5 separate regions of the Homo sapiens genome follow, and all the other regions are linked to region 1. The links come from fine-mapping of genetic effects on gene expression. A gene starts in region 1. Each other region holds a variant in brackets. All regions are shown on one strand. Distances are from middle to middle.

What was found. PIP is the estimated chance that this variant, and not a neighbour inherited with it, causes the effect.
Region 2: its variant is fine-mapped to the expression of TMEM170B in whole blood (INTERVAL, PIP above 0.99).
Region 3: its variant is fine-mapped to the expression of TMEM170B in whole blood (TOPMed, PIP above 0.99).
Region 4: its variant is fine-mapped to the expression of TMEM170B in whole blood (INTERVAL, PIP above 0.99).
Region 5: its variant is fine-mapped to the expression of TMEM170B in whole blood (INTERVAL, PIP above 0.99). The same link has a PIP of 0.9 or more in blood mononuclear cells.

What each region holds. Positions count from the first base shown.
Region 1 is chr6:11,534,776-11,541,422 of GRCh38, reverse strand. TMEM170B (transmembrane protein 170B) reads right to left here and starts at 3,674. Exons shown (of 3, transcript NM_001100829.3): 1 at 3,049-3,674. The coding sequence starts at 3,145. RefSeq lists silencers at 2,721-3,000, 3,011-3,090, 3,191-3,350, 3,381-4,210 and an enhancer at 2,880-3,381.
Region 2 is chr6:11,504,763-11,511,409 of GRCh38, reverse strand. All of the region lies in intron 4 of LOC105374928 (a long non-coding RNA gene), which reads right to left. Among named protein-coding and RNA genes, the nearest start is that of TMEM170B, 30 kb to the left of the region's middle. The variant T/G (reference allele first, on the strand shown) is at 2,972.
Region 3 is chr6:11,487,165-11,493,811 of GRCh38, reverse strand. LOC105374928 (a long non-coding RNA gene) reads right to left here. Exons shown (of 5, transcript NR_187824.1): 2 at 6,101-6,247; 3 at 3,348-3,499. Among named protein-coding and RNA genes, the nearest start is that of TMEM170B, 47 kb to the left of the region's middle. RefSeq lists an enhancer at 1,688-1,807. The variant G/TG (reference allele first, on the strand shown) is at 4,031.
Region 4 is chr6:11,608,291-11,614,937 of GRCh38, reverse strand. No RefSeq gene overlaps it. Among named protein-coding and RNA genes, the nearest start is that of TMEM170B, 74 kb to the right of the region's middle. RefSeq lists an enhancer at 5,083-5,624. The variant ATTTTT/T (reference allele first, on the strand shown) is at 3,397.
Region 5 is chr6:11,578,044-11,584,690 of GRCh38, reverse strand. TMEM170B (transmembrane protein 170B) reads right to left here. Exons shown (of 3, transcript NM_001100829.3): 3 at 1,167-6,647. Among named protein-coding and RNA genes, the nearest start is that of TMEM170B, 44 kb to the right of the region's middle. The variant G/C (reference allele first, on the strand shown) is at 3,031.

The DNA.
Region 1 (6,647 bases):
CAGTTCTTTAGGTTTAACAAAAGACACCTCTATAACATAAAAGTGCAAGGTGAAGCAGCAAATGCTGATGTAGAAGCACAAATTATCCAGAAGATCTAGCTAACTGATGAAGGTGGCTACCCCAAACAACAGATATTCCATGTAGATTAAACAGCCTTATATCAGAAGAAGATGCCATTTAGGACTTGCACAGCTAGAGAGAAGTCAATCCCTGACTTCCAAGCTTCAAAGGACAGGCTGACTCTTCTTAGGAGCTAATGCAGCTGGTGACTTTATATTAAAGCCAATGCTCATTTACCATTCTGGCGCCCTTGAGAATTATGCTAAATCTACCCTGGCTGTGCTCTATAAATGAAACAAAAAAGCCTGGATGACAGTACATCAGTTTACAGCACGGCCTACTGAATATGTGAAGCCCACTGTTGAGAACTGCTCAGAAAAAAAAAAGATTCCTTTCATTTTAATGAGTATTTTCTTCAATGACAATGTACCTGGTCAACCAAGAGCTGTGATGGAGATGTCCAAGTAGATCAATGTTGTTTTCATGACTGCTAACACAACATCCATTCTGCAGACCATGGATCAAAGAGTAATTTTGACTTTCTAGTCTTATTATTTAAGAAATACACTGTGTAAGAAGGCTAAAACTGCCAGAGATAGTGATTCCTCTGATGGACCTGGGCAAAGGAAATTGAAAACCTTCTGGAAAGGAGTCACCATTCCAGATGCCCTTAAGAACAATCGTGACTCATGAGAAGAGGTCCAAATATCAACTTTCATAGGAGTTGGAAAGCAATTGACTCCATTCCTCATGGATGACTTTGAGGGGATCAACACTTTAGTGGAGGAAGTAACCATAGGTGTGGTCGAAATAGCAAGAGAACTAGAATTAGAAGTGGAGCCTGAAGATGTGACTGAATTGTTGCAATCTCATGATAAAGTTTGAATGGATGAGGAGTTGCTTCTTATGGATGAGCAAAGAAAGTGGTTTCTTGAGATGCAATCTACTCCTGGTGAAGATCATGTGAACACCGTGGAAATGACAACAAAGGATTTAGACTATTAGATAAACTCGGTTGATAAAGCCGCAGCAGGGTTTGAAAGGACTGACTCCAATTTTGAAAGTTCTACTGTGGATAAAATGCTACCCAACAGCATCCCATGCTACAGAGAAATCTTTCATGAAAGGAAGAGTCTATTGCTCTTCCTTAGTGGCAAACTTCATTGCTGTTTTAAGAAAACTGCCATCATCCCAATCTCCAGCAATCATCACCTTGATCAGTCAGCAGTCATCAACACAAAGACAAGACCCTCTACCAGAAAAAAGATAACGTCCTTGCTGAAGGCTCAGATGATCGTTAGCAATTTTTCAGCAATAAAGTATTTTTAAATTAACGTCTGTACTTTTTTTTCAGACATAATGCTATTTCACATTTAAAGACTACAGGTAAAATGTAACTTTTACATGCACTAGGAAAACAAAAAATTCATTTGGCTCACTTTATTGCAATATTTGCTTTATTGTGGTGTTCTGGAACCAAACCTGCAATCTTTCCAAGGTATGCCTGCACAAATATATGTTAAGTCCCTACTTTTCATTTCACTTAAACAAAAACTGGTACAGTTCAAATACCAAACAGTGGATAAATGCAAGCAAAATCATAAGTAAGATAAAGCAGTCTACCTCTAAATTCAACTGAATCATGAGATGGTCTTTATGTCCATTTAGTTTTCCAGAATTATAACAATATATTCCTTACCGGCAATCATCATGTAAAGTCAGTCTGTTTCAAGTTAAATAACCACAGCTTAAAAGTGAGGATAGCATGAAGCAATCCAGAATCTACTTTAACTGTATAGTTTCCATTCGAAGAAACCAGTGTCCTTAAAGTTGTCTTTTGTGGTATATAATTCCATAAAATTTTCTTCTATGAATGTTTGTATTCTATACCATGCCAGACTTTATATATATGTTATATATATGAACCCAGGTTATATTTGTAAAATACTCACAACACTTTAACCAGTTTGACAAAATGCATTTTGAAATACTAATGTTCTACTGAAATTAACTGCCTTACACATTTTCAAGAATTAAATTCTGAGTATTTTTTTAAGATTTTTTTCCTCTGAAAAGCAGGCACTGAGGAGTCACCAAATCGCAACTGAATCTCTTTCTCGTAAATTCTACTTCAGAGAATAATTTTTAAATTCGGAACTCAAAGTATAATGTAAGCATTTCCACATAACAAAACCAGAAGTTTCTTCACAAAGCAAATCTACAGACTGAATAAAAATATTGTGTGTTTTATCACTCACTTTTACAAATAGAAATTGATGTTATAAGGCCAATTACTGACAGCCTTAATAAATGAAGGGAAATACACAAAATTATCAAATGTCTCAGAAGCAGCAGCTGGAGGCCTGAGGGAAAGAGACAGACAGACAAAAGGAAATGGGAGGGGAAGGAGATATATGAAGCTAACACGCTTAGACCGCACTAGACCTTAGCTCAGCCCCTGACCCACTATAATTTACTCAGTTATCTACATCGCCCAAAAAATTAGCGGTTGAAAAAGTAAATCGACCATTGTGGGCAATGATTTTAGGTTCTACATTTGGCTTGAGATTTGCCAGAAAGAAAAAGAACTAAATCAGAAAAAGATGTAAATAGCAAGAAGCGATGTGTGTAGAAGGGGGAGGGGAGGAGGGTAATGGAATAAAAGCGAAATGCGCTCAAGTCTCAGCACTAAAGCTACTCCGCGCGTACTACAGAGGCCGGGCCGCCACCGGGAGCTCTCCCCGTGCGGGGCAGGAGCGGGGGTCGCTGATGCTCCCCTGGCGACTCAGGGAAGGGGGTGGCGGGAGCCGGCGCCCCCGGGACACGCGCAGAGTGGCTCCGATTAACACCTTCCTCGCCGGGACCTGGAGCTCCGAGCGGGGCGCGCACGGGGGTGGGGCGGCGAGGAGCGTGTCCCCTCCCGAGGAAGGAGAAGACAGGAGAGGGGCGGACCGCATCCCCGTCCCCAGCCCAGGCGCGTCAATTACCCGTGAGGTTCCTCAGCACCGTCCCGTGGGCCCAGAGGCTCAGGACCTGCTGCACCGACAGGTTGATCATGGAGTGGTCGCCCCCCTCCGCCTTCATCTTCCCCGAGGGGCGCCCGCCGCCCTCTCCTCGGGTGCCGGGCGGCGGCGGCGGCTGCGAGGCTCGGGGGGCGGCGGCGGGTGCGCGGCTCCTCCAGGCCGCCGCCGCTGGTGGAGGCTGCGGGACGCCGGGCCGGGCGCTGCTGCTGCTGCAGCCGGAGGGCCTCCGTGGGGGGGCCGCTCAGCGTGTCTCCCAGGCAGCCCCCTCCCCGCCGGGGAGACATTGAGGACGGCGGACGGAGGAAGGAGGGGAGGGGGCCGGGCGCCGTCCTCGCGCGGCCCCCGAGCGAGGACTCGGGGCGGAGGAGGCCGCCGCCGCTCCCTCTCAGGGGCAGCGCCGCGCCGCGGGGACTGGACACGCGAGGAGGCCGAGGTCACGCCAGGAGGCCGGTGCTGATGGGCAGCCGGCAGGTGCAGCCCCCGACAGGGCCCAGCTCATCGCCGCCGGAGGACGGAGACGCGGGACCAGCCAGAGGCTGCGGCGGCACCTGCCGCCCGCCTGCCCGCCCTCGGGTCGCCGACACTCGAGGAACCGCCCCCTCCACCCGCAGCCGCCGGCGGGCCACTCGTGCACGCGCACGCGCGCGCCTCTCAGCGCCGGCCCCTCCTCCCCTGCGCTCCCCGGAGCCGCTGCGCATGCTCACTCCCCCGCTCCCCGCGACCCGCCGCCCTCCAACAGCCGGTCGGCCCCAAAGCCCTCCTTCTCGCTCTCCCCTCGCGCTGCAGCGCGCGTGGCTGACGGCGCCGAGCGACGGCCCGCAGTGGGGCGGAGGGAAGCGCGGTCTACGTCACTGGCGCCACCGCCGGGCCTTACTGCTGATTGGGCGCTCCAAGGGAACCGCCTCCACGCCCCCCACCCCCGGACCCCGGGCGCGCGCCCTGAGAGACCGGGAGACCTGGATCCCTCGCCCTGGCCCGGCTGGGTGCGCGCGGTGCGGGCGGCGTGGGCGGTGCGGGCATTTCGGGGGCCCGCGCTGCAGGGGCAGCCCTGACCCAAGGTGGGGCTGCTGAACTCGGTGAGGTGGATACTGTGACAGTTCAGATTTTTGCCTTAAAATGTAATGCTTTTTGATAAAGATGCTTATGTATAACTTTTTTAAAAAGGTGTCACTATCTCAGCATTTAGATATATTAATTTGCGGGGTTTTTTTTCTGAGCCTGAATCGAATGACCTGGATAGGTCACTTACTTGCAGAATGCATGTTAAAACCCCTAAAACACAAACAGACCTGCGTTATCATTCTGCTAATCCCTCTTCCCGCAGCAAGAACTTGGGCCTCCCGGGGTTCCAGGACCTGCCTGACATTACCTGTTTACTCCAGGCTCGGCAGGTGTCCTAATCCTCAAGGCCATCGCCGGCTCTAGCCCCCCTTTTTTTGATGGTAGTATTCTTTTATCTAAGTTGCGTCTGTTATTTTTTTCCCTCGAACTTAAACTAGATCTCTCTCCCCACGCTTTGCTGTCTGTCTTCATGTCCAGCGTTAGCCAGAGGAGCATCTAAAATCCAACTACAAGTTAAACTCCTCGAAATTGGAAACCTTCTAACTTTAAAAAATAAAAATTTAAGTTTTAGCAGTAACATAAATATGCAGTAGCCAGCCCCTCCCCCCACCTTTTTTCAACCCCTCTGCCATCTGGATAAAGAAAAATTTACAAAGAGAAGTGAAGAAATACCTGCTGTAGCTAAATCATGAAGTATATTTGACAAAGCACTGAAGGGTCAAATTACCTGTCAAATGGTGCTCTTGGTGACCACTTTAAAATAATATTTACATACACATTTATTTCTTTGTTTATTTGTATTTTCTTTTTGATGTCACAACATAAGAGAAATTTTTGCACCATTAATAGGAATTGAGCCAAAACTCTTAATGTAGAGTTTATCTTCCTCCTAGAATTTAGACTTAATTAGATCTATTAACAAGATTACAGAATATCAAACCTAAAAGAGCGCTTTAACATTTTTCTAATTTTATTTTACAGATAGGGAAACAGATTCTGTGAATTAAGTGACTTGACAGAGATGACAGCACTTCACAGCTCAGTTTCTGAATTCCTGGTCTATTATTCTTTCTAGCAACCACATTATCTTTCTTAACCCACTGTTAACTCCCTCACTTTAAGATTCTTGATGGGGAAGTGCAGGTTACCTAATGATATTCTTAAGGGACTTGGCATTACATAATTAGTGATGTTAGGGAATGTGACCACATTCAGTGAAGGGTTCACAGCAAACTCCCTGAGCAGGGGCTCATTAAACTCTCATATCAGAAACCTTTAGTTAGTTTACGTTCTTAGGATTGCACACTATTATTTAAAACACAGTAGCACGCAGTGAAAATATTCAGAACCTGGGACAGTGCCTGGCACCTGCACCACAAATATTTGTTGAATGAATCACTGAATGATCTTCATAGAAAAGTCAGCATTGTTCTTGTTCTGAATAAATATTTTTTACAGAATCCAAGTGTTCATGTCAGGAAATGAGAAAGACACAGCAATGAAGTCTCAAGTCAGTAATGTTATTTGCTGCCCAACAACTTCACCCCTGCTGTTCAGTTCAATTTAATTGGCGTCTATATTTATTTGGCATCTACTATCTGTAATGTTCTGTGCAAGGTGTTATCTGTAACATTTGAAGATAAGATCTCTACTCTCTAGGCTACTTAGGTTTTCCTTGATAAAAGTAATGATCTTGACTGTGTTGGAAGCTTATATCCTTAAGAGAATTAGACATTTTCCCAACAGCCAGAGTTATGAAACCCAAAACTGAGTTAATACAAATGAAAGTTTTGGAATTTCTTTCCTACAGATTTTTTATTTTGAATTAATACACCAATTCAGGAAGAGTTTAGTCACGTTCCTGTCAGAAATCAGGGACCACCCCAAGTGAATCCAAAAATTTCCTTTCAACTCTGTGCCCTTCAGCATGAAACAATTCACAAACGTAATTCATAAACCAAAATTCCTGGTTTATTTCTCTCATGTAAGTGAGGGAACACCCATTAGCCTTAGTCATTTTTAAAACTGTCCAGAGACAACCTAGAGGAAAGCTTTTTAAAATCAATTAAAATATAAAATGATATTGATCTTTTGAGAAAAACATTTTCAGGTATCTTTTCAGAAGCACCCCACTCTACTGGTATCAACTTAACGTATTAGTCCATTTTCACGCTGCAGATAAAGACATACCCAAAACTGGGCAATTTATAAAGGAAGAGGTTTAATTGGACTTACAGTTCCATGTGACTGGGGAAGCCTCACAATCATGGTGGAAGGCAAGGAGGAGCAAGTCCCGTCTTACATGGGTGGCAGCAGGCAACGAGAGAATGAGGAAGACGCAAAAGTGGAGACCCTTGATAAAACCATACAGAGCCAAATTATATCATTCCTCCCCTGGTCCCTGCCAACTCTCATGTCCTCACATTTCAAAATCAATCATGCCTTCCCAACAGTTCCCCAAGGTCTTAACTCATTTCAGCATCAACTCAATAGTCCACAGT
Region 2 (6,647 bases), 30 kb after region 1:
TCTTGTACTGTAGGTCTGCTAATAAAAATTATTTTCATTTACCTGAAAATCTTTATTTTGCCCTCATCCTCAAATGTTTTTTTTTGCATTTAGTTGACTTTTTTCCTCCTTTCACCATTTTAGAAATGTCATTCCACTGTCTCCTTGTGTCCATTGTTTCTGATAAGAAATTATTGTTATTTCATATCATTCTACATTATGGAATATGTTAATCTGTGGTTAATCTGTGGTTGTTTTCAAGAGATTCTCTTTAACCATGGTTTGAGAAGTTTGATTCTAATGTGCATACATGTGGTTTTCTTTGTATTTTTCCTGCTTGGGCTTCACTGGGTTTGTTATAGTTATATCTGTAAATGTATGCCTTTCACCAAACTTGGGAAATATTTTCCAATTATTTTCTCAAATATTTTTGCTCTCTCTCCTCTTTTGAGACTACAACTACACATATGCTAGACCTTTCCACATTGTTTCCACAGATCACTGAGACTCTACTTTTTTCTAATCTTTTCTCTTGTTTTTTTTAGGTTAGCTACTTTCTATTGCTCTATCTTCAAATTTATTGACTTTCTCATTTTAATCTACTGTTAAAGTTATCTTGCAAATTTTAAATACAGGTTTTAAAAAATTTTTTGGATTTTCATTTGTTTCTCTTTTGTAGTTTTGATTCCTCTGCTAAAATTTTCTCTCCTTTCATTCATTGTGAGCATGTTTTTCTCTAAATCCTTGGAATGGTTATAATAGTTGTTTTAAAATCCCTATGTGCTAATTCCAACCTCTGGGTCATCGCAGTGTCAGTCTTCACTTATTTGCCTTTTGTCTTGAGATCACATTTCTCTGTTTCTTCATAAATCTAGTAATTGTGGATCACATGAATATTATGAATGATGTGTTGTAGGGACACTGGAATCTGTTATGTCCCTTTGAGGAATTTGTTTTCTTTGTTTTTGTTTTTAAGCAGGCAATTAATTTAACTTTAATTCAAACTCCAATCCTGTTTTTTGTGGAGTGGAGCAGCTGAAAACTCAATTCAGTTATTTTAGACTCATAAGGCCTATTTGGAGTTATCCCTGTGCATATGTAGTACAGGGGTCAGCCAGAGATTTTATCCATGTTCATATATAGAATCCCCCTTGCCCCGCCCCACCCATGGCTTTTACCTTTTGTGGGTTTCCCCCTCAATCTCCAGCTGCCATGGCCTCCAAAATCTGTCCTGTGGTTCTCCAAGCCAATAAGACTGGATTTCTACTGGAGTTTTACCCACCAAGAAAGCTGCAACTAGGGCCTACCCTCCAGCAAAATGTTGTATCAAAACAGGAAAACTACATGGCCATTTCCTTCTTTCAAGTATAAGTTTACCTCCAATTTCTTTCATGTCTTCTAGAGTGCCTTTAGATTAATCCAATTATATTTTATATTTTGTATGGAGCTTATTTTTGTTACCTGAGAGTGGGTTGACCCGATAGAAATTACTTCTCCATTTCATTTTAGAAACTTATTTGCATTAAGTTTTTATTCACCAAGAAATCAGTGCTTATTAGTTTTCACAGTACCTCTATGTAATAGTTCCCTGGTGCTTATGATAAGTAGATTTTTCTCTATTCTACCACTGTAAAATATTTATTCATTCATTCACTCATTCTCCATATATTTTTTGAGGATCTGCTATGTTCTAGGCATAGGATAAAAGTGAGTAAGATATGGTATTTGCCCTCACCGAGCTCAAAATCAAGTGCTACACTGTGCATTACGGTAGTTGCTAGCCATGTGTAGCTATTTTAAAATTATTTTTACATTAAGCAAAAATAAACAAAATTAAGAAGTTAGTTCCTGTGTTGACAGACAGGTATTACGTTAATACCACTAGCCACATTTCAAATGCTCAATATATAGCCACATGTAGCTATTGACTACCATAGTAGACAGCACATATATAGAACATTTCTATCATCCCAAAAGTTCAGATGTACTGTGTTAGTGTAGGAGAAGAGAGAAATATGAAAATTTATCACTAAAATATAGTATGATAACAAAAAAGAGTTATATACAAGGTATGGCAGCTGAACAGAGGTGATACTATTTAACTGATATTACAAAGATCCAAAGGGGAGATAATATGTAAGCTGAATTTTTAATGATTAGAAAGATTTGATCAGTCATCCTAGGAAATATAAACAACATGTCAATAAGCATTGAAGACTTAAATCAGATTACAAAACTATTTTTTAAAAGCCCTGACTCTCATATTTCTATTTTAGGCATCTGAATAAATGGTAATATTCACTGTTTGGGGATCATAAATGGAGCACATTTAAGAGAAAAGTGATAAGTTTGCATGAGGCCATTTTGAATTTGGCATGCCTGTTGGACACTTAAAGAAGCTGGATGTATAGTTCTTGAGACTGGAGAAAGGTGGTTTGAGTTGGCAATGCAGATTTGATGGCATAATATATTTTAGGTGGTTGTTAAATTTGATAGCATGTTTGAGATGTGCTAGAGGATGTAGAGTAAGAAACAAAAGGAACTAGCACATCGTGATGATTTCATATATGTCAGACATTCTGTTAGGCACTTTACATGTATTTGGGAAGAAATGCAATTACAATTGTATTTTGGTATGAGAGACCTGGATTTGAATTCTTGCTATACTACTTTACTGTGTGTGACCTTGAGCAATACACTTAATTTCTCTAAACTCCAGTTTTCTCATCATTCAAAAAGGGTAATAATAAGGCCTACCTCATTTGGTTGTGTGAGAATTAAATACAAAATTTGGAGTGTCTAGCATATGGTAAGTCCCCAATACATATAATTCACTCTATTTTTATTATTAATATTATTATTATTAATGACATATTATTTAGCCTTCATAACAACCTTATGAAGTAGCTTTATTGTCTTCCTTTAGCTGAAAGTATTATGACTTGACTAAGGTTTCAAGTTGGCAGCTGGATGATCCAGAGACAGAATCCAG[T/G]TTTAAATTAATTGAAATTTAAAATTTCTCTCCAGGGCTCTTTTTATAAAACTGCTCTGTGGTAGTTTCTTACAGACATTTGAAACAAGTATTTGATGAAATTATATATATAAGAATATAATATTCTTCGTTATTGTTATTTAAAGAAAAACAGAACATCTCCAGACACGACTCCAAAACAACTGTGTAATCATATTTCAGTACATGTAACCTCTCTCTTTGCCAAGATAGTTAGTGCTATAAAAGTAATACCTGTCAACAGATTTGATTACCCTCTGCTTTTAGACAACTGAAAATAATAATCTTAGATGTCAGAATATCAACCAAGAACTACAAAAATGTTCTTCTCCATTAAGTTTTGGACAGATAACCTATACTTACTTTGAAATATCTTGCTAAGACTGAAGTCTTAATATATAAATATAGTGGAAATAATTTGTGCCACCCACCAATTTCAAAGGCTAGTTGATAAGTGATTAGAGCAGCTTTATGTCTCTGTAAAGAGTTATAGGAACCTAATGATTTATTAGCATTTCAACTGCTGCCTTCTTTTTCCTTTCATGCTCTGACAATTCTTGTCGTAACACCCTTGGCTGGTGATTTAGTAGAATCTCCCTTAGCTGATGATTTAGTAGTAAGCAGATCTTAGATTTAAAATTACACAGCTCCCCTATTTAAAGCTGCAGGGTATTTGTTCCAATGGAACTTTACTTATGTAGCAAACATTCATTGGTACCTTGTTGTATACCAGATACTGTCCAAAAGTAGAGACCCCAAACTGAAAAGGCATAGTCCCTTTCTTTAATGAGTTAATATTCTAGTGAACACAGTGGACTTCTCTAAAGAATGGATGACTCTACAGAGAAATCATTGCAATAAGTTTTGTAATAAAGAGATGTTAAAGTTGCATGGGGAGCTTATCCAAAGCAGTCTTCAAACAAGAGGTTAAATTTGTAATATTATAAGTATGTAAATTTGTAATATTATAAGTATGTAAGTATGTAATATTATAATTATGTAAATTTTTAAAGGCCATTAAATTGAACACTTACGATTTATGCACTTCAGTTATGTAAATTTTATCTTTAAAAATATGAAGAGATATTGAACGATAGCAGGTTTGCTTTTCACAAGGGTATGGGCTGGCAATTCAGAAACATTCTCTGTATTCTAGACTTAATAAAATGCATTTATTATAGTAATATTTTATAATTTAATATACACAATATATGTATAATATATATAACATATCTATGATAATAAGAGGATGAGAGTCAGGTTTCCCACTGTTGAGAAGGGAAATGCATGTGGACATGGGTAAAAGGAAATGTACTCTGTAATGTTTGATTGCAATTGGAAATATCCGTGTAAACTTATGGTTTTTCATAGTAAAACTTTAATCTTAATTTTTATTTTTTTAACTTTGGTTTTAGGTTTGGGGTACATGTGCAGGTTTTTATATAGGTAAATTTCATGTCAGGGGGGTTAGGTGTACAGATTATTTCACCACCCAGGTAATAAGCATAGTACCTGATAGTTTTTTTATCCTCACGCTTCTCCCTCCCTCCACCCTCAAGGAGGCCCCAATGTCTGTTGTTCCCTTCTTTGTGTTCATATGTACTCAATGTTCGGCTCCCACTTAAAAGTGAGAATATGCAGTATCTGTTTTCTGATCTTGTGTTAGCTTATGTAGGATAATGGCCTCCAGCTCCATCCATATTGCTGTAAAGGACATGTTCTTGTTGTTTTTTTGTGTCTGTGTAGTATTTCATGGTGTATATGTATCATATTTTCTTTATCCAGTCTACTGTTGATGGGCATTTAGGTTGATTCCATGTCTTTGCTATTGTGAATAGTGCTGCAGTGAACATACATGTGCATGTGTCTTTATGGTATAATCATTTATATTCCTTTGGGTATATGCCTAATAATGGGATTACTGAGTTGAATGGTAGTTCTGCTTTGAGTTATTTGAGAAATTGCCAAACTGCTTTCCATAATGGCTGAACTAATTTACCTTCCCACCAGCAGTGTATAAACATTCCCTTTTCTCCATAACTTCATCAGCATCGGTTATTTTTTTACTTTTTATTAATAGCCATTCTGACTGGTGTGAGATGGCATCTCATCCTGGTTTTGATTTACCTTTCTGTAATGACTAGTTATGTTGAACATTTTTTCATATGCTTGTTGACTACATGTGTATCTTCTGAGAGTGTCTATTCTGTCCTTTGCCCACTTTTTAATGGGATTTGTTTTTTGCTTGTTGATTTGTTTAAGTTCCTTACAGATTCTGGATATTAGACCTTTGTTGTATGCATAGTTTACAAATACTTTCTCCCACTCTGTAGGTTGTCTGTTTGCTCTGTTGATAGTTTCTTTTGCTGTGCAGAAGCTCTTTAGTTTAATTTGGTCCCATGTGTCCATTTTTTATTTTGTCACACTTGCTTTTGGTGTCTTTGTCATGAAATCTTTGCCAGGTTCTATGTCCACCATGGTAGTTGCTAGATTATCTTCCAGGGTTTTTATGGTTTGGGGTTTTACATTTAAGTCTTTAATCCATCTTGAGTTAATTTTTATATATGGTGTAAGGAAGGAGTCCAGTTTCAATCTTCTGCATATGGCTAGCCAGTTATCCCAGCACCATTTGTTGAATAGGGAGTTATTTCTCCATTGTTTTTGTCAACTTTATCAAAGATCAGATGGTTGTTGGTCTGTAGCATTATTTCTGGACTCTCAATTCTGTTGTGTTCGTCTGTGTGTCTGTTTTTGTACCAGTACCATGCTGTTTTGGTTACTGTAGCCTTGTAGTATAGTTTGAAGTCAGGTAACTTGATGCCTCCAGCTTTGTTCTTTTTGCTTAGGATTGCCATGGCTATTCGAGCTCTTTTTTGGTTCCATATGAAATTTAAAATAGTTGTTTCTAGTTCTGTGAAGAATATCATTGGTAATTTGATAAAAATAGCATTGAATCTATAAATTGCTTTGGGCAGTATAGCCATTTTAACAATATTGATTCTTCCTATCCGTGATTATGGAATGTTTTTCCATTTGTTTGTATCATTTCTGATTTCTTAGAGCAGTGCTTTGTAGTTCTAATTGTAGAAATCTTTCACCTCCCTGGCTAACTGTATTGCTAGGCATTTTACTTTACTTTTTTGTGGCTACTGTGAATAGAACTGTGTTTTTTATTTGGCTTTCAGCTTGGATATTATCGGTGTATAGGAAAACTGGAAAGAAAACATAACATCTACCATAACAAGAAAGCTCCAGATAAACAGTACAATTATAACACTTTTTTCCATCAGAGAACAAAGGTTGCAGCACAACCAAGAAGACTGAAATTTAAAGAAAGGCCCTTATTAGGATGCAAGCACTGTCATACCTGAGTCAAAGCATGAGATGAAGAGATGTTAGATGCCATACAAACAGAATAAAAAAGAAAAAAACTGATCAGATGAAATATTTGAAAAAATAAAAATAATGGAAAACATCAAAATACATATCCAAGAAATGCATGGGACCCCTTGCAGCATATGTAAGGAAAAAAATCTAACTAGACAAATAAAATTCAAACTGCTGGAAACCAAGAGTCAAAAGAAAATCTTGAGGGCAACCCAAATAAGAATTATAGTAGATGTCTCATTAGAATTTATGCAACCCAGAAGACAAGAGT
Region 3 (6,647 bases), 48 kb after region 1:
ACATTAGTTCTCTCGTCTCTTTAAAACAGTAATCAAACTGGCCGGGCACGGTGGCTCACGCCTGTAATCCCAGCATTTTGGGAGGCCGAGGCCAGTGGATCACCTGATGTCAGGAGTTCAAGACCAGCCTGGTCAATATGGTGAAACCCCATCTCTACTAACACAAAAATTAGCCAGGCGTGGTGGCATGCGCCTGTAGTCTGAGCTACTCGGGAGGCTGAGGAGAAGAACCACTTGCACCTGGGAGGCAGAGGCTGCAGTGAGCCGAGATTGTGCCGTTGCACTCCAGCCTGGGCGACAGAGCGAGACTCCGTCTCAAAAAAAAAAAAAAAAAAACACAGTAACCAAACTTTGCTTCACTGTGGTTTGGTAAAGTGGAGCAGGTGTCTACCAGTTTTTCATGCAACCTGCCCAAATGGCCCTTTCAAACTCTAATGGTGTGAGAAGCTCAGCTCTGGTAGGGGAGTGTACATTTGGTATTTCTCCCCTGCTGCTTACAAGTTCAAATGCTCTGTGCACTGACAGCAGCAGGAGGAGGAAAAGTTAAACATGGTGATGTTTACTAGAGGAATCTGTCCTCTGTAGTTGTAATTAAGAGGTTTGCTAGACCATATGGGACTGCTGACCAAGTACTAAAGCAGCTATGTCAAACACAACACCAGTGGTTTTATTTACAGCCAGGAAACCAGTGTGTTTCACGTGCTATCCCAACAGGGACCATCTCCACATCTTTAAAGAACAATGTGCCGATAAAAGAAGTAGAACGAAGGATTGCAGCCCCCCCAGCCCCCCTGAGCCTCTCTGCCTTCTGGTGACAGAAGCATTTTAATCGTCACCACCTGTAGAAAATGTTCTCTTCCTGGTTGCCTAACCCGGAGATCCAGCAGTTGGAATTCCAGACAGGAATTCTATAGTGTGGGATGGAGAAGTATTTGGAGATGATGTGGTCGCAGTTATCTCTCAAGTTATTCTGGAGAGGCCATTTTCTCTCTTCCTATACTTGTGTTGCCCTATTCCCAGTTTTACTTCACAATGTTTTGAGGCATGTCTATGAGGCCCCAATCCTACACCCACGTAATCTCTCTCTACACTGCCTTTCTCTCCCTAACCCTGCGGCTACAGCTCCCCACACCAGTAGGCTCAGCCCACACTAGTTCCCAAACCAACCTGGGATTGCGTAAGCAACTTTAAACCTAAACCTACAAATCTACTGTGAAACTCAGAGTTTGATGACCGTGCAATGACCCCAGTTCCTGGCTGCCATGTTACATCCTGAACCCTTACTACAGATTTAACTGGGATGGGATATCCCCGAGGTATCCATCAGGATCCAGCATCCATAATAATAGTTGCTCTCCATGGGGAATTTCTGCTAAAAGCAATCCTCTAATCCTGACAACAGAGACTTTCACCATCTTTGTCTTAAAAGATGAGGATGCAGGGGCCTGAAAGAGGCTATGTAACTTCCCCAAGTCAGTGTCAAGCTGGGACTGGAAGATGAGTATTCTAAAAATTATACACTGTGAGCTGTGATTCAGCCTCGAGGGACTCTACTTGCAACCACTGTCTGGTCTTCCAGTTTGAAACTTGTTCTGAGCTTCCTCTTCTACCTGAGTCTCCAACCAGGTTCCTCCTTGAAAACTGAGTTAGCTAGGTGACCAGGACCCTGTACCCCAGGTTCATCTCACCTGGCTTTCTATCGTTCACCAGAATTTCTTACTGCAATGTTCCCCTTCTCTTGGGACACATGACTGCTTAACATAGGCTTTTAATGTGTGGCTCCTTGTCTGTGAGAGTTGGGAGCAAAGTAGGCCACGGGCATGAGGAAGGCGATATTGTAGCAGCCTTGCTATCAGGGTCAACATGGTGCAGGCAGGCATTCGGTCCTCTGCAGCCCTGTAGGGCTGCAATGCGTACCCTCAATGACTCTCAGCACACACGTGTGCACACACCACACACACAACCCGATACACACATGCACACACTCCACACACACACACACACTCAAACATACCACACACACCACACACACAACCCGATACACACATGCACACACTCCACACACACACACTCAAACATACCACACACACAACCCGATACATATCACATACACACACTCCACACACACACACCACACACACAACCCAATACACATCACATGCACACACTCCACACACACTCACACAAACATACCACACACACCACACAACCCAATATACACACACATATACACACCACATATACACCACACAACCACATACACACCACACACATCATACACACACCACCCTAACACACCATACACACACAACCCTAATGCAGCAGCAAGTTGGAGGACAGAAAGACACATACATATACACACCACACACATATACACACCACACACACAAAACCCTACACACATCACACAAATATACATATACACATCACACACACACCATATACATACACAACCCTACACACATCACAAACCTATGCATACATACACATACCATATATACCCACACACACAACCACATACACAGCACACACACAACACATCATACACACACAACACATACACACGACCCTACATACATCACACACACATGCACATATCACATATGCACCGCACACACCATACACATACACATCACACACACGACTCTATACACATCACACACATAAATACACATATACACACCACATACGTACCACACACAACATACACAGCACACAGCACATGCATCATACAAACACATACACACACATACCACATACATAGCATATACGCTACACACACATACACACATGCTATGCACGCACATAGACACACACACACCCTTTCTTCCTAGATTCCCAAGTCTTACACTGCACCGCCACCTCTCCTGACAGGCATAGAGGGCTGACTGTATTGAAGCCCGGCTGCAATGAAAAAACCTGGTTCCCTTGGTGGCTGTGACAACAGCATCATCAGGCATCTAACCAAGGCAAGTGCTGCAGTCGATGTTCCCGAGTATTCCTCTCTAGATATAAGCTCCTTTGCTTCTGAAGCAATCTCAAAACTCCTTTACAGTCTGGTTCAACAAATTCCCACACTTGTACAATGTTTAGTCCATAAGTACTGAACATCAAAGCCAACAGAAAACCCTAGGCGTAGGTCTGTCTATTCAGAGATTATCTCAGTTGACAGCAAGTGAATTGACCCATCCAAACCACTGGGTTCCATGACAAATTCTTCTCCAGTACCTAATATCTTCGGGATAACGCATTCATTCGCTGAACAACTCTTTGCTGATTGCCGGTGTTAGGTCACTGAGGGAGACACACATCTATGACTCATGTGACCTCAGCCCTCCAGGACCTACCTTCCAGTTTGCTGGGTGTCATAGCAGATGCAGTAGGCAGACTGCTCGGACCAGCTCCACATCCATCCTCCATTCACAAGAAAGGCTTCTTGCTGTGAGTATCTGCAATTCTCTGCTGGGGGGATTTTCTTTACTGGCCAAGTGTGCCTGCCCTGAATGCAGGACAAAATGGAAATGCTCAAGAATGATTTTCCCTGGAATCCCTCAAATAAATAATGGGCAAGGCATTGGTGAATACACATTGGAGCCTCCCTGACCTTGGCTGGGATAACTTTGTTCCACATTGCCTCCAGTGGGATTGAGGTCTAGTCCTCCATATCAGTAACTGAACTGATAATTCATCCTTAATTGATTTTCTTTGCCTCCCACTTTTACTAACCCCCTCCTCCACTGATGATTACTGGGATCACCTCTCAGCTAAACTACTCAGATTTGAATCCTTGTCTCAGAATCAGCTTTCAGAGGAACCCCGACTAATTAAAGGGCTAAAATACATGTATAGATAGTTATAATTCTAGAAGAAATGAGGTAGATGACATTAGAGTGCTTTATTTAAAATCCTGTAAGAGTTCACAGGAAGAGTAAATTACTTTGAGTTCGGAAATTAGAAAAGACTTCTTGGAGGACAGTCCTTAAATGGGGAGTAGGATTTGGGTGTTCAGTGATGGAGCAAAAGACACTCT[G/TG]AGTGGGGTTGGGTAAGTGGAGGCATGACAGCAGGAATTGAGTATGGCATGTTTGAAAACAGTTCAGTCTTACAGAAGCATTTTATAAAGGAAAACAGCAGCAGAGGAGCCAGGTAAAGATAGATTTTAAATCCTAATGCCAAGGTCAGAAATGTTTATCAAGCTATCTAGCACAGCTCTATCCAATACAAATTTCCAGAATGATGGAACTGTTCTAACAATGAGTTGTTCAAAATGGAGGCCACTAGATACAGGTGGCTATTAAGCATTTGAAATATGGCTAGTGCCACTAAGAAACTGAATTTTTAATTTAATTTAATTTAATTTAATTTTAACGAACTTAAGTAGTCAAATGGCCAAGGACTGCTATTTTGGACAGTAGATTTCCGGGCAATGCAATATGACAGGATCAGAAATATGCTTCAGGATAAGTAATCAGAGAACTGACTCTAAGATCATATGGGAGGTGATCTGAAGATAGAGACCGATGATGAGGCAGAATCAATAACTGGGTAAGTGTCGTTTCTTATTAAAGTTGAAAATGAAAATATTTTCTTCAAATAAAAAAACAAACACATAAATAAAACAGATGAAAGTGGAGCTAACCTTGCTAAAATGAGGAGAAGTCCTTGAGGAATCTCCCTGGAAATCCCAAAAGCTGCTCAGAACTCAGCTCATTAACCACTAGGCCAAGTCAAAGGTGGTGAAGAGTTCTACCAAGGTAATAAAAATGAAGAGGAGGAATAAATCTGGGAGACGTGATAGAAGTGAAGTTAATCTCTCTTAGCAACTAATTACGTATAAGAAGTAAGCCTTGAATATCTGCACATTTATTCTCTTATTCACCTAAGCCCAAACCCTGGTGTTATCCAAAATTCTTCCCCATTACTCAGTCATCACAAATATATTCTTCCCCATTACTCAATCGTCACAAATATACGAGGTGAACAAGAATAAAGCTTATTGAACAAAATTAACATACACAGTGTGACATAGATAGTATTGAGAAAAATCAGGACTCACATCCAGGTTCATTGATGAAAGGCTTTCCCTAGGGTTTCCTGCCCACCCCCAGGATAATGCAGTCATAGGAGCCAAGGTAGGGGCCTTTACAAGTAGGGTTGTCAATCAATAGTTTTAAACACAGCAGCAAGTTGGGGGAGAGAAAGACAAATGGATATTAAAGTTGGGAGTTAATTTCAGTTAGAGTTAAGGGAAAGAAGGTAGGCTCTCAGATGTCAGACTGCTAGGATTTCAGGGATATGGTAAACAAATGAAGTATAAAAAAAGTGAAGATGCAAAAGTGAAGGCAATGAATATAAACTACTCTTTAGCTCTTTGGTAAATGGAAGAAAAGGATGGAATACCCTGGGAATACTCAGCAACCTGCTTGCTGACTTGCATTTTCTTCGTCTGTGAAATCTTAAAGTATCAAGAACACCCAATGTCTTTTCTTTTTTCTTTTTTTTTGAGACAGTTTCTCTCTTGTTGCCCAGGCTGGAGTGCAGTGGTGCAATCTCGGCTCACTGCAACCTCCGCCTCCCAGGTTCAAGCAATTCTCCTGCCTCAGCCCCCTGAGTAGCTGGGATTACAGGCATGTGCCACCACATCCAGCTAATTTTGTACTTTTAGTAGAGAGAGGGTCTCTCCATGTTGGCCAGGCTGGTCTCAAACTCCCGACCTCAGGTTATCTGCCCACCTCGGCCTCCCAAAGTGCTGGGATTACAAGCAAGAGCCACCGCGCCTGGCCAACCCAATGTCTCTTCAAAGAAAGTCCTTGGTCATCTGTCACTTTACTTAGAACTAAGTGGCCTCATCATCAGATTGATAGGACCAGAGGTAAACCACTGAGGGAGCCATCTCTTTTAGGCTTACTTGTGAGAATGGAACAGCCTGGTAGAAGAGCTCTTCCCAATAGAGGCAGGGTGCACTGATGGCCAATTGCCCAGGGAACTCGCCCTCCCCGTCAAGGAGTTGGAACCCCCCAAAGACACCAGAGAGTTGCAGGTAGCAGCAGGGAAGGTAGAGGCAGAGACATAAATGGGGGATCACTTTGTCTCCTCCAGTCACCTGAAGCAGAGAACAATAAATTTATTCCCTGAAGAAACAAGATGACCAGATGCGTGGAGCTTCATGGTGTCTTGAAGGATGTTGCATTCTCCGCAAAGCTTTGCTGAAAGTGGTTGAGATCTTGTCTTCCTTATCTTCTCTTGCATCCTTATGAAAAAAACAGAACACAACATCTGTCTTTTGCATCTGAAAGAACATAGCCAAGGCATGGGATAGTCCTGAAGACAGTGAGGCGAAAGTCTTGATGCCCTTCAAAAAGTAATCCTAGAAAATTCTCATAGGGCAAGCCTCTTTCAAAAGATTCTCTAATGGCCATAGGTGCAATGGTCTCATTTTTGAGAAAGTACAGAAATTTTAGGTTTACTCACAGACTCTGGAATAGTGCCCTCTGCCCTACAGAATAGCTTTAACAAACAAATAAACAAACAAACAAACCAGAGTCTTGCTCTGACACCCAGGCTGGAGTGCAGTGGTGTGATCATAGCTCACTGCAGCCTTGAACTCCTGGGGTACTACAGACCCACACGTCACCATGAGCAATCCTCCT
Region 4 (6,647 bases), 74 kb before region 1:
TAAGGGCTATGATGCCAATAAGCTAGATAGAATGCTTGTTCCAAATACCAGGACATTCAATTCTTTGTGATTACCCTTCAAGGAGAGTCTCTGGTATTTTGAAGCTGGCACACTTATTAAAAAATTAAATAACAGGTGGTCAGCCAGAACCCAAGGGCATTTCCCACCCTGAACTGTGCATGCCAAAACTAACCAAACAGCCTGGTTGTGTTTTCCTTTTCTATTACCGGCATGCGAACAATGCAATCGTCGTCGTTTATGCTGGAGATATGGTGTCACCCTTAACCAAGACAAAGGATCAAAACAGGCTTTGTTCTAGGACTCTCTGTTCTATGGCCAGAGAGTTCTTGTAGGATTTGTACTTGCTGATCCTTGGAGTGCAAATGGGATTTCTTTAAGTCCCCAGTAGACTTATTCCTGTAACCAAGATTTTAATAAGGACTTTTCCCCCACCCACCAATGTTGCCTGTGCCACTGCTTCTCTGCAATTTCAGCTATAAAATGGTTTTTTTTTTGTGGGGAAGGTGATTTCCTTCTTGCTGAGACTAACAGAGGGCAATCTCTACCTCCATACGTCTCTGGGCTTCTTACTAGTTTCTTAGGCCCAACCGGAGATTCCATTTCATAGAATCAGATTTTTAACAGATTTTGGAAATTATTCGGTACAGTCTCTCCAAATTGCAGATGAGAAACTCATGGCCAAGAAGAATGAAGTGTTCAAAGTCACTCAGCCAATTTGTGGCAGAACCAGAGCAAAAATTCTGTCTTCTGACCCCCAAGCCCATGCTGGGCCCACAGCACTCCAGCTGCCCTGGGATCGTGGCTGACATCAATGGGTTTCCCATCCTATACAGGAAAAGTGGCATTCCAAAACTTCCTTCAAAATGAAATCTAGCCACAGTTCGCAGACATAATCTTGTGAGTCACTCACTGAGAATCTGAATATCTAAACAGTATCTAAGTAGCTAAATATCACCAGATTACGAGCCAGAAAACCTCACTGGAACTGAGTTGGCTTTACACTTAACATTGGGTACGTACTTGGATGGTTCAGGATTTCCTGGGTCATATTTTCCTAATATATAAAATGGTGCTAGCAATAGGTCCTCACCTGCCTTGCAGGGTAATTAGGAAGATAATTTGAAAGGAAGTTTTATTTTAATAGTCATGGCATAAATGAATTTGATACCCACACACCTAGGTTTGATTCCTGCTCCGTAAATTACTGGCAGCAGGCTCTGGAAAAATCCTTTAACCACTCTAGCCAATTGTTTTCACATCTTTGAAAATGAGGCAAAGACATCCATCTCATAACTTTGTAGAGGATTAAAATGAGATGGGTATGAAATCAGGTGTATGACACAGTTTCTGGTAAGTGGTAAGCATCCACTGATGAACTGCACATTCTAGCTTCATCACTTCCTTTGTGTATCTGGTTTTCCCCAACTAGACTTCAACTTCCACACAGATTTGTTTCCTTGAAGTGAAAGGCTAACACTCAAGACATGCTTCCAGTTTACTTCCAAAGCAGAAGAAAACATGATGCTAGTCCTTAAGGAGTTCTTACTTCCTACAGAAAAACAAGATGAGCTAACATATTGAGCATTTTGCAAGCATTATCTCATTTAATTCTGATGGCATCTCTATCATGTATACTGTATTTGAAGCTCATTTTACAGTCGACAATATGTAGGCACCAAGAGATTAAGTACCTTACCCAAGACCACAAATCCACTACGTGGCAGAGCTGGCCCTCAGAACTCTTCCAGTTTTGCCCCAGGTTTGTAGACTCATCTCCTGTTCTTGCCCTAGCATTCTGATCTCTCATCATGTCTTCCAAGGTCATTTTAGCAAGGAACTCTGTTTCATGTTTCCTGATGGATTTTTTTTCTAACCACGTGTGTTCATTTGCTAGGGCTTCCATAACAAAGTACCACAGACTGCGGGGCTTAAACAATAGAAATGTGTTCTTTCACAGCCCTGGAGCCCAGAAGTTCGAGATCCAGGTGTGAGCAGGGTTGGTTTCTCCTGAGGCCTCTCTCCTTGGTTTGCAGATGGCATCTTCCCCTGTGCGCTCCTATGATCTTCCCTCTGTGCACGTCTATGTCCTCATCTCATCTTCATAGAAGGACACCAGTTATATTGAATTAGTGCCCACCCTCATGACTTTACTTTTTAACTTCATTACTTCTATAAAGTCCCTATCTCCAAATACAGTCACACTCTTGAGAGTTTGGACTCCTGAGGGTTTGGACTTCAACATATTAATTTTGAGGGACATAATTCAGCCATAACACTGTGATTTCCATCACAAATGTGTGTCTCCTCCTAAACAAATTCTGAAGTCCTAGCATCCAGAAACGATGGAGAAAGGGAGGGGAAGGGCAGGCGGCATAGCCTCTGCTGAGGAAAGTACACACATTTCTCATGAAACATTTTTCAGTGGCCCCTTCAGCTCCCTTGAATAACCTGACTACTTCATCATTCCCACACCCTCTGTATTCTCCAGTAAGCCCTTTACACAGGTTTCTCTTGTCAGGGCCACCACGTCCCCACTTTAATTCTCATCTTGGTATGCTTCTGGGGGAATCCAAAAAAAGACAATTGCTAAAATGAAATCCTAAGTAGAGGTGATGTGAGCACTAGTAGACATAAGCTACACAAATCTCCAAGATTAAGCCTAACGACCATGTGATGTGTTTCTGCCAAAATTTCTATTTATCACCAGCACAGCAAGCTCTGTATTCATGAGACCCAGTGCAAATGAAAACTGTTTAAAAGTGGGGGAAGAAACTATTGTCAAAGGTACTATAAAATAAAGCTTTTTTCCTTCCTTCTGCAGTGTCTCAATTTATCATGATGTTAAAAAAAAAAATCTGCTGTTTAGTGTTGTTCTAAGTCAAGAAAAATTAAAATTTTAAATTATTAGCATGAATTTTATGGTTCATCTTTACATTGTACAATGTCAGTTTTAAATGCAAATATGGGCCAGGTGCGATGGCCAACACCTGTAATCCCAGCACTTTGGAAAGCCGAGGCAGGTGGATCACCTGAGGTCAGGAGTTTGAGACCATCCTGTGCAACATGGTGAAACCCCCATCTCTACTAAAAATACAAAAATTAGCCAGGCGTGGTGGCGTGTGCCTATAATCCCAAGCTACTCACTCTGAAGGCTGAAGCACGAGAATCACTGGAACCCCAGAGGCGGAGGTTGCAGTGAGCTGAGATCGTGCCACTGTACTGCAGCCTGGGTGACAGTGCAAGACTTCATCTCAAAAAAAGATAAAAAAATTAAAAATAAATAAATAAATAAATGCAAATATGAGAGTATTTAACTCATCTGCAGAATCACTGGAATTATGTAATTCATATTTTTCAGCTTATACATGAATATAT[ATTTTT/T]TTTCTTGCCAGAACAGTGGAAATACTGCACAAAACTAACTCAACTCTTTTTATTTATTTATTTATTTATTTTATTTTATTTTTTTTGAGATGGAGTCTCAGTCTGTCACCCAGGCTGGAGTGCAGTGGCGCAGTCTTGGCTCACTGCACCGTCCGCCTCCCGGGTTCAAGTGATTCTCCTGCCTCAGCCTTCCGAGTAGCTGGGGTTACAGGTGTGCACCACCACACCTGGCTAATTTTTGTATTTTTAGTAGAGACGGGGTTTCACTATGTTGGTCAGGCTAGTCTCGAACTCCTGATCTCAGGTGACCTGCCTACCTTGGCCTCCCAAAGTGCTGGGATTACAGGCGTGAGCCACCACACCCAGCCTTTTATTTTACTTCTTGATATGCACAAACTCTATCAAATCTTAACGCTCAGCTGCCCTTTTTTCCTTTTGGTCTATGTCTTCATTTTCAGAGGAAGTATATGGTTAATTCAGGGAAGTGCATGAGTAAGAAAGAACAGAATAGGGTCCGTTGGTCGTTAGTATTTGTTATTAATAGAATGCCATTGCCTTCTTTCTTGTGTCAAAGCAAGTTCTGCTTCAAATGGAAAATGTGCCCTCTTGGAGCTGTCAGTGTCCCTCCTCCTTCCTCACCTCACCTTCCTTGGTTGTCCATGCTTACCTTGTATTTGCTTTGAGTCTCCCCTGAATCCCCACACGTGGTGGGTCCACTGGAATTCTGTGTCCAGGGGGCATCGCGAACACTGTATGTGAATGAGCAGCAAGGATCAATGGACATGCATGTTGCATGTCACTACTCAGCTCACATGCATGCTCCGTTTTCATGTTGGAGTACACCTGCAAGATCCGAGTTCAAAGGTATTAAGGATTCATTAAGGATTAATAATTTATTAATCCTTATTAAAGATTTTACCATGGCAACAGCAGAATGTTAAACCGGATATGAGATGCTTGTGAGTTCAGGGCCCTGGGTAGGTCACTCAACTGTGATGCTAACTTTGATCACAGAGAAAGGGAGGCCATGGCATGTTGAACACCCCTAAGTGGGAATCACGCTTCTGCATTACAACCAGAGGCAAGGCACTGAACTCTCTAGTCATCAGAGTCCTTATAAGATGAATGTCTTGTACATGATAATCATGAAGGTATTATTTCTAAACACTTTATCATTCAACCAAGGTGAGAGGGCTTCTTGAAGTTCTTTATTATGTTCAAGCAGGTCTCGTTTAAAACCAAGAGTGAATTTAAAGAACACAACTGTCCCTTTGTTTGGGATTCCCCTGCACTCACTAATATCATTTAGATAAGTTAAAAAAAAATCCTGATAGCTTTTGAATATTTTTGGCAAGAGCAAAATTTTTTCTAGATGGCCAGAAAAATTCCATGATTATTTTTTTTTCTCTTAAATGCAGGGGGCTTTGCAGGCTTCTAATTTTTAAGCCTGAGTGCATCTGCAGACACACATAGACACACGCACGCCCTTGGTTTCCCCTCTGGCCCACACCAGCGTGGCATGGCCCAGACAGCTGCGGTTTGTTGTGTTCGCTGGTTTCCAGCTGTGGTCCTTGCACCTGTCCTCACCCGTGTTTTGTACATTCTGGAATGTCTGCTGGTTTTCCTTATCAGACGCGTGGAAGAACATAAACATGTCACCTCTTCCTAACAAGACTTCCAGAGTGTGTGTGTGTGTGCGTGTATTTGTGGGACTTCCTAGAAACCAGGGCTGTTTTCTCTTGCCAGGCGCCACAGCAGGCCTTCCTGTGCAGGAGGTCATTTCAATAAGGACTCTCGGAGCTTAGTAAGCAGAGAAAAGAAGGTCATTCCCAGACAGGATGTTGGGAAGACGCCCGGCATGAGCCTTGCTGGGCAAGAGACGCCAACCGGACCAAGAATGTGGGCCAGTCCCCCAGGAAGTTATTCATGAGCCTGCACTGTATGATAAACAGGCAACCAAAGCCTTTTCTAAACAACTAAAATAACAATGCTCCAAATTCCAGAAAATCCTCAAACAATGACTGGACATTCCTTATCCCCTATTTGCTTATTTGTTCACCAAGTACTTTCAAAGAAACCAGAAACTGAAGTTCTGACTTGGGTTTCAGAGCAGGAATAAAGTGTGAGAAGATGTGCTGGCCACGCCGCACTCCCTGGGGACATTCTTCCTTTCAGGGGAGTCTCCCCTTGCCACGCCAGCCCAGCCTTCCAGAACCCTTGTCACTCCCAGTGGCAGTTGAAGGCTGAAAGCCAGCATGGACTAGCTTTAAGACAGGTCAGCAGGATGGGGCCGAAAACAGGGAGAAGCTTCTATGGTTTACGGGATCAAAAGATGTAAATTGGTCAGGTTAGAAAATTATTCCTGAATAAGCAAAAAAACTATTCGGGGAGCTGGAAATGTGCTATATATCTACATGACTTGAAAGAGATATCAAAATTCCTTGAGGGCATGTATTGTTTAAATTGTAATATACATTCACTTGCTACACAATGACACTTCAGTCAAAGGCAGATGCATATACAATGGTGGTCCTGTAAGATGATAGTATTTTTACTGTACTTTTGTATGTTTAGCTACACAGATACTTACCATTGCATCCCAGTGGTTTATAGTATTCAGTACAGTACCATGGGGTCCAGGTTTGCAGCCTAGGAATGATAGGGTCTACCGTATAGTGTAAGTGTGTAGTGGGCTATGCCACCTCGGTTTGTGTAACTCTGATGGTCACACAACGATGAAATAACCTAATGAAGCATTTCTCAGAAGAGATCCTCATTGTTAAGCAGCACATAACTGTGTATGTATAATAGTATGATTATATGTGTGTGTACACATATATAATGTATACATAATTTGCATAATTATGAAATAATATTCTGTACACATATATAATGTATACATAATAATTTACATAATTATGAAATAATATTCTGAGTATCATTTTATAGATATAAATGTCTACAGAATCTAAGTCTGCAAGTAGTAAGATGACGGGTGGATATATGCACATATATCTTCTAACACTTGTTTATAGGTAAGACCCATTCTTCATTGGAAGAAATAGAAACTCTTGTCATTTTTCTCACTGGTTCAGTAAAATTGCACTTGGAAACTTCAATGCAATCTTCTCTCTACTGTCCCGGCTGCAGGCCAGAACACCCAGTTTCTTCTTTTTTGCTGTGGGGCTTAAGACTCTAATGTATGCGGTTTATCTATTCTTTACTGTTGGCAATCTGTATCCCAC
Region 5 (6,647 bases), 43 kb before region 1:
GATCTCAAGATTTATATTTTGTCCAAGATGTTAACATTCATGGCCAGGGAGAAAATGTATTGAATAATTTTATGATTAGTGTGAATGAATAAAAAAAATTACCAAGGAAGAAGAAAATATATTTCCACGGAGTAATTACGTGGAATGAGTAGGTCAGTGTATGTGAAAAAACGTTTACTTCCATTATGCTTGCGCAATGTTTAAAGTGAAGCTAGTTTTCATTCCAGCAAGATTTGAAACATTTATAGTGACTGGCTCTGTCAGCTCCAATCTCTTCACAGGCAAGATAGCAGTTGAATCTAGTTGGGTACTTAGCACTTCCCTGAGAAATCCCAAACATTCAAAATATGCATAAATTTGACAATTCAAATCCTCGGTTGATAATTTTTCAAGACCACATAATTTCATCTGGTTTTTTACAGTAATGAGATATTATCTCATTACAGGTAAGAGTTCCCAAAATACTCTGTAGACACCAACACAACATAGTTATGTTGGGGGAAGCAGGTAATCGAGCAAGAAAACCCCAGCCCGGCAATTATTAGCTCTGTGGCCTTGAGCAGATTCCTACCTTCTCTTAACTTCAAATGCTTCATCTATAAAACGGCGATAAAACATATCACTTGAAGGGTTACCTTAAGTGTTAAAGAATACATAGGAAGTGTCTTTAACAGATAAGAAGCACTCAACAAATGGTAGCTCCTTATTAATAAAATTGATAGCATGTTTCTTTAAACGGTAACTCAGAAGTAGATGCTATGTGGCCCAGGATTGATCCTAGGCAAGTCTATTAACCAGACTTTATGCCTCACACCTTTTTTTTTTTTTTTTTTTCTGAGACAGAGTCTCACTCTGTCGCCCAGGCTGGAGTGCAGTGGCACGTTTTTGGCTCACTGAAACCTCCGCCTCCCGTGATTTCCCAGGCTCAGCCTCCCAAGTAGCTGGGACTACAGCCACACACCACAGCGTCCAGCTAATTTTTTTGTATTTTAGTAGAGACGGGTTTCACCACGTTGGCCAAGCTGGTCGCCTCTCAGCTTTTAAGCACTAACTCCTAAATCTGTAGGTAAAACAGGGCCAGAAAAATTGACAAAAAGGCAAGAGAAGACATTTGAGTCCATAGTGAATGAATTGAAAAGATTTATCACCAAGAGTCAAACACCCCATAAAGCTTTCAAAGACAGGTTTATTTATATATAAGTGCATGAAATTGAATACAGAAACTTTATTAAAATACTGTATATTACAAATTTTTAATCCAATAAATTCTGTGTAATGACATTTAAGTGCTGGATTCACTTTTTAACAGTTGTCTTGTGTGTATCAGTAAAGAGTTCACCCTGTATATTACAAAGAGGAGAGCCACATGTGGACCTCAGAAATGGTCCTGTGATTAGACACTGAATGATAGTAATTGTGCATCTTTTCCTTAAAGCAATGAATTGGAACCTAGATCTTATCTTTGTAGACCTACTTTCTATAATTAAAAATAACTTGCATATGTTTATTGCTGCCCTTTGAAGAAAATGAGAATGGTGAAAAATAATTTAAAATAAAGATCAACATCTCTAGGCTAAACTGATGCTTACTGCAATTAAAATTACTTAAAATTCACTGCAAAATTTGTGTTCTCCAGGAAATTATGCTATATACATAATGAGATTTGTACATGAATTGGGAAATAAAAAATTGCTTATATAAAATTAAAAATCAATAATATACAATATTTACAGCTTGTTAGGTATTATATATAAACATAGTTTTTAAAATAATCCTTCAAAATTAAACTGTTTTATGTAAACATGCAGTACACATACTCATATAGTTTATAGTCTTAACAGAAGGGGAAATTGTGTTCACATAACACAGGGTACTTCATCAAATATGCCTTTGTTTTTGTGTATTACCCCTCCAACATTTATTCTCCTGTCTTTAAGCTTCACAGTACATTTAGTATTTCTATAGTAAAAATAAATCCCTGATGGTAAACATATTTCTAAAGGTTAAAGTGTGTGCCCTGTACTACAGTATAAAACTAACACTGTTCACTAGAATCTCTAGTTTACAACAAAACTAAATTTTAAAGTCTCACACTTAATTTTCTTAACTACATTTTTTTCCATTTCATACTTGGAAAAAGAAAAAATAGAGAAAAATACCACATCATGAAAATATAGTGAAAGTAGCTGTCATCTGTCACAGTCAATGACTAAGTAACTGATTTACATTGAACCATATGAAGTTAGTAGCTACTATTCGTTAGGCTTTCTAAACTTTGAATTCCCAGTCACTGGTGATGTGTATCTAGCCAACTCACTGGTGCCAATCCTGAATCTTGCTAAATCCATTTTGCACAAGTATCTTAACTTTCAAGGCACTAAGGCTTCATTTAGCTTTTAAAATCTGCCTGTGATTTACCAAAAGATTCATCAGTGGTCTGAGAGTTAACACAATTTGAAAGTGAGACTTTTAATACTTGTCAGGTAAACTATATTTTTGCTATTTAAATAAAGACATTTTAGCTAGTTAACTTTCAAGATAAAGTTGATTCCCTCATCTCAGAATAACTAGAGTCAGGGGCTAATATTTTTGGTAGAATCCTATGAATTTTGGATGGCTAAAACAAAAAATACCGTGAATTTCCTATTTGTTCATCTAAATGCGTGCAGCTCAAGTCTGAATGTGTGTATTGGTGAGAGGGCCAAATCTTTCAAAAAAATTCTTCCATTGTAAATGCATCCAACATCAAAAACATTAAGAAAGTGTCAACAGTTAAACTATCAACTCATCTGCTATTAAAAGCAAGTCATTTTTATGATCATTTACTCAACAAGTGCCACTATGTTGCTTTCTATGGAGAAAACTTTAAAATGTTCCATTCCAAAAATACTTAACAATGATGTGTAAATACTTTAAAAACAAGAGAAGCGTCATCATCAGTAGTACTCTCGAGTTAACGTTCCTTTAAACAAGGCTCTAAAAAAAGTGATTTCTGCTTAATTCAGCAAGACAGAATAAAATTTTTAAAGT[G/C]GTGATTTTTAGGAACTACCAATTTATAAGAGAAAAAGTGTTACAGTTATGGGACTCAGACGATTGATTATGCACCGCAATTCCTCTTTCTGTGTATTTGTGTCAAACTGCTTTTCCGTTTCAGTTATCCACCTAAATACATTCCCAAAAAGGGTGGAGTCATGTTACTACCAAGAGTAGATACATGTGGGTGCAGTACATAATCGTAAAAATGTATGTATGAGGTTCATGCTCTCCTGACTTGCCTAAAGTATTTACTTTTCAGTAAGATTAGAGCTGCATAACTGTAGGGGTTAAGAGTATTCTTTCCTAAACCAGCTCCTTGGATTCTATCAACAAATTGTACATATGTTTAAACTATAACATACGACATCTGTATGGAAAGAGGAGGAAGATTTTTAGGAAATTGCTAAATTCGTTCTCAAAATCAGGGAAGAGTTATTATGTAAGTTCAGTATATGTGCAATAAATGTAAAGAATGTGAAAACAACTTCCCTAAACTCAGGGGAAGAGATGATTATAGTTCATAGCTCAGTTCACTCAGAAATGTGTTTCCACTAATTTAAAAGTATTATCTGATATATCTCCACATTTACTGAAAATACTTCAGATATTAAGCATTATTTCCCCCAAATTCATGGATACATTTTTAGATAATTCAGCAACCTCCCTAACAACACTGTACTGCCTACACAGACCAGAGCTCCTTAAGTGAGAAGAGCAAACCTGTCACCACACACACACACAAAATGCAATACAATTTCAAAATGCACGGTGGTCAGTGAAGCCTCACATATAAAGAAACACAGCATGTGTAAACATGCAGTATACATACTCATCCAGTATAGTTTCTAGTCCTAACAAAACACAGGATGTAGGGCGCTTTGTCAAATATGTTTTTGTTTTTGTGTGTTACCTCTCCAAATGCTATAATTTTTAATCAAATAATATCCTTTTTATCCTGAAGAGTCTTCTTCCAAGATGTTATAACAAGGACGGGAAGTTAAGAAAGATTATAAAACCATTTGATTATTGGTCCGTTTTAACAATTCAGAGTTTCACCCGATTATTAAAAGAAATAGTAATTTACCCAGTTACCCAAAAAGTGTTACCAAATTTCTCTGCAATCGAAATCTGCTAGAATTTCTTCAGTAATTTTCCTCGTCCCTCACATCTTAAAAACAAATAATGACTGCAGAGATTCTGATTGAGACTGAGAGAAAAATCTGTAGTGTCAAGAGTGAAGTGGTTTGAGAATATTTCAGAAATTGCTCCAGGCATCGTTACTCCCTGAATTACATAATGAACATAAATTTAAAATAATAGTATTTGAAGTTAAAAAAAAATAGGCTGGGCACGGCAGCTTACACCTGTAATCCCAGCACTTTGGGAGGCCAAGGTGGGTGGATCCCTTGAGGTCGGGAGTTTGAGACCAGCCTGACCAACATAGAGAAATCTGTCTCTACTAAAAATACAAAACTGGCCAGGCATGGTGGTGCACGCCTGTAATCCCAGCTACTCGGGAGGCTGAGGAAGGAGAATCGCTTGAACCTGGGAGGCAGAGGTTGCGGTGAGCTGAGATCATGCCATTGCACTGCAGCCTGGGCAACAAGAGCGAAACTCCGTCTCAAAAAATAAATAAATAAAAGAAACAAAATAACAGCTAGGGCTTAAGCACCCTTGGCCTGTGGAAGAAAGAACTTGGTAGACACTGAATATCGTTCTATTTTTCTACAGAATTGGCACTACACTGTAGAGCCAAGGGCCCAGGGCCGGCAGAAGAAACAGACATATAGAAGACTGAAGGGTTATATATCGCTCTTACTTTTCAAGAAGAATAATTAGCAAATAGCAGAAAGTCAATAAATCAACATGGCTGAATGAATCCAAGGGAAGTAAGTGGGAATAGATAAGGGAGTCAAGGCTGACTACCTCTCTACCCTTTTCCTATTTTAACCAGTGGTCAACAGAACTCCTAATTTAATCCTGCTTGCACTGGCCATTTCCACCACCACCAATTCACAAAAGGTTCTTAAAGATCTGCTGATTTTAAAAAGAAAAAGTGAAAAGGAGATGAAGCAAGATTATAAGAAAACGTTTTTAGTTTCTTTCCTAAAGCATATGTAAGGAAAATATAGAAATGAAACAAAATTGATGAATTTTACAAAACAACATATTCAATTGGTAATGCAATTGCAAAATGTAATTTAAAAAAATTCTAGAGACTATCAGTTGATCATTTACTGTGAAATACATACTGCTTTGCCATTCATAAACAATCTCACGTAATCCTCACAATAACTACATGAGGTATTAGTCACATTTTACGGAGTATGAACTGAGGCTCAGAGAAGTTAAGTGATTTGCTCAAGGTCAAAAAGTTGACAAGTGACAGAGTCTTAATTCAATCTGTGTTGCTGGCTTGGAGTCTCGTATTCTCTTCACTATGTCACAGCCATGATATCTCAGTTATGGAAATTCTATTTAGTGGATGAACCAGGAAAATGAGAATTTGGAGGGATAACAGGCTAACTCTCAACTAAAATCAGGAAGCAAAATGTTGTCCCAAACTTTTTAGGATTTAAAAATCATCTTGCTAGCTCTTGGTGTACTCAAGGTAAAGAATTCCATCTTGGTAATTCTTGTACTTCTTACTAGAGAAAATACTTGGTAGAGCACTTTACATAGTGGATCCACACGAAGTGTTTACAAAATAGAATTATTTGCTGTATGAGTGGCAGCCTAGGTACATCAATGTGGCAGCCACATTTTCTTCATTAGAGGTTCTTTAAAGACCTTTCCCACAACATTCTGTGATTTCAAATTATCCCGTTGCTCATATCACAAATACAAGATATACAGGCCAACTCATTTCTTTATTTCTCTCATTTAAAGTACAAACAAAACCCTTATACTTTTTTGAGCAGTGAAATGTATGCTGCAAATACTAAGAAAGTATATTGGGTAACAAACTGTAACACTGTTTGGTAAACATTAAGATCTAAAGAATAATTCTGCTCCAGGCCCTGAAGATAGCCATCATTTAGGACTTCACTTATCCTAGGCAAGGTAGGCTATTACCTTGGAACTGTCCCATGGTTCGGAAGACTGCTGGTTCTCCTTCTTTTAAAGTTTTAAGCATTATTTGCAGTTTATTTGAGGCCTCCTGACTAGCTGTGATCTATGGCATTTTTAATCAGTATGTTCAACTGTAATTAGTTTGGGCATGTAGGAGTTCCTTCTTTGGGGAGCTGATTTCACTATAAACAATATTTTATTAAACATTTTTTAAATAAAGGAGTGTCCACTATAGAGGATCCTCCCTCCCTTCTTGCATTTGTCACGAAGAAAATGTACTGCTAAATCACATACGAATTTTAACAAAGTATATAACCCAAATACATCAATAAGGACTTTTGTCATGTCCCAAACAAGGGTCTCCAGCTCTATTAAGTGAAGAAAATTTTCCCAAAATTCAAAATTTTCAAACATCCTCAAACCTATTTAAAAGATCATTACACTGAACAAATTTTCCACTAGAACATGAAAGTGTTCACTGAAAAAAAGCTTTCCAAGTAGACTGTATTCATATATAGCAGCTCTCTATATACCTATAT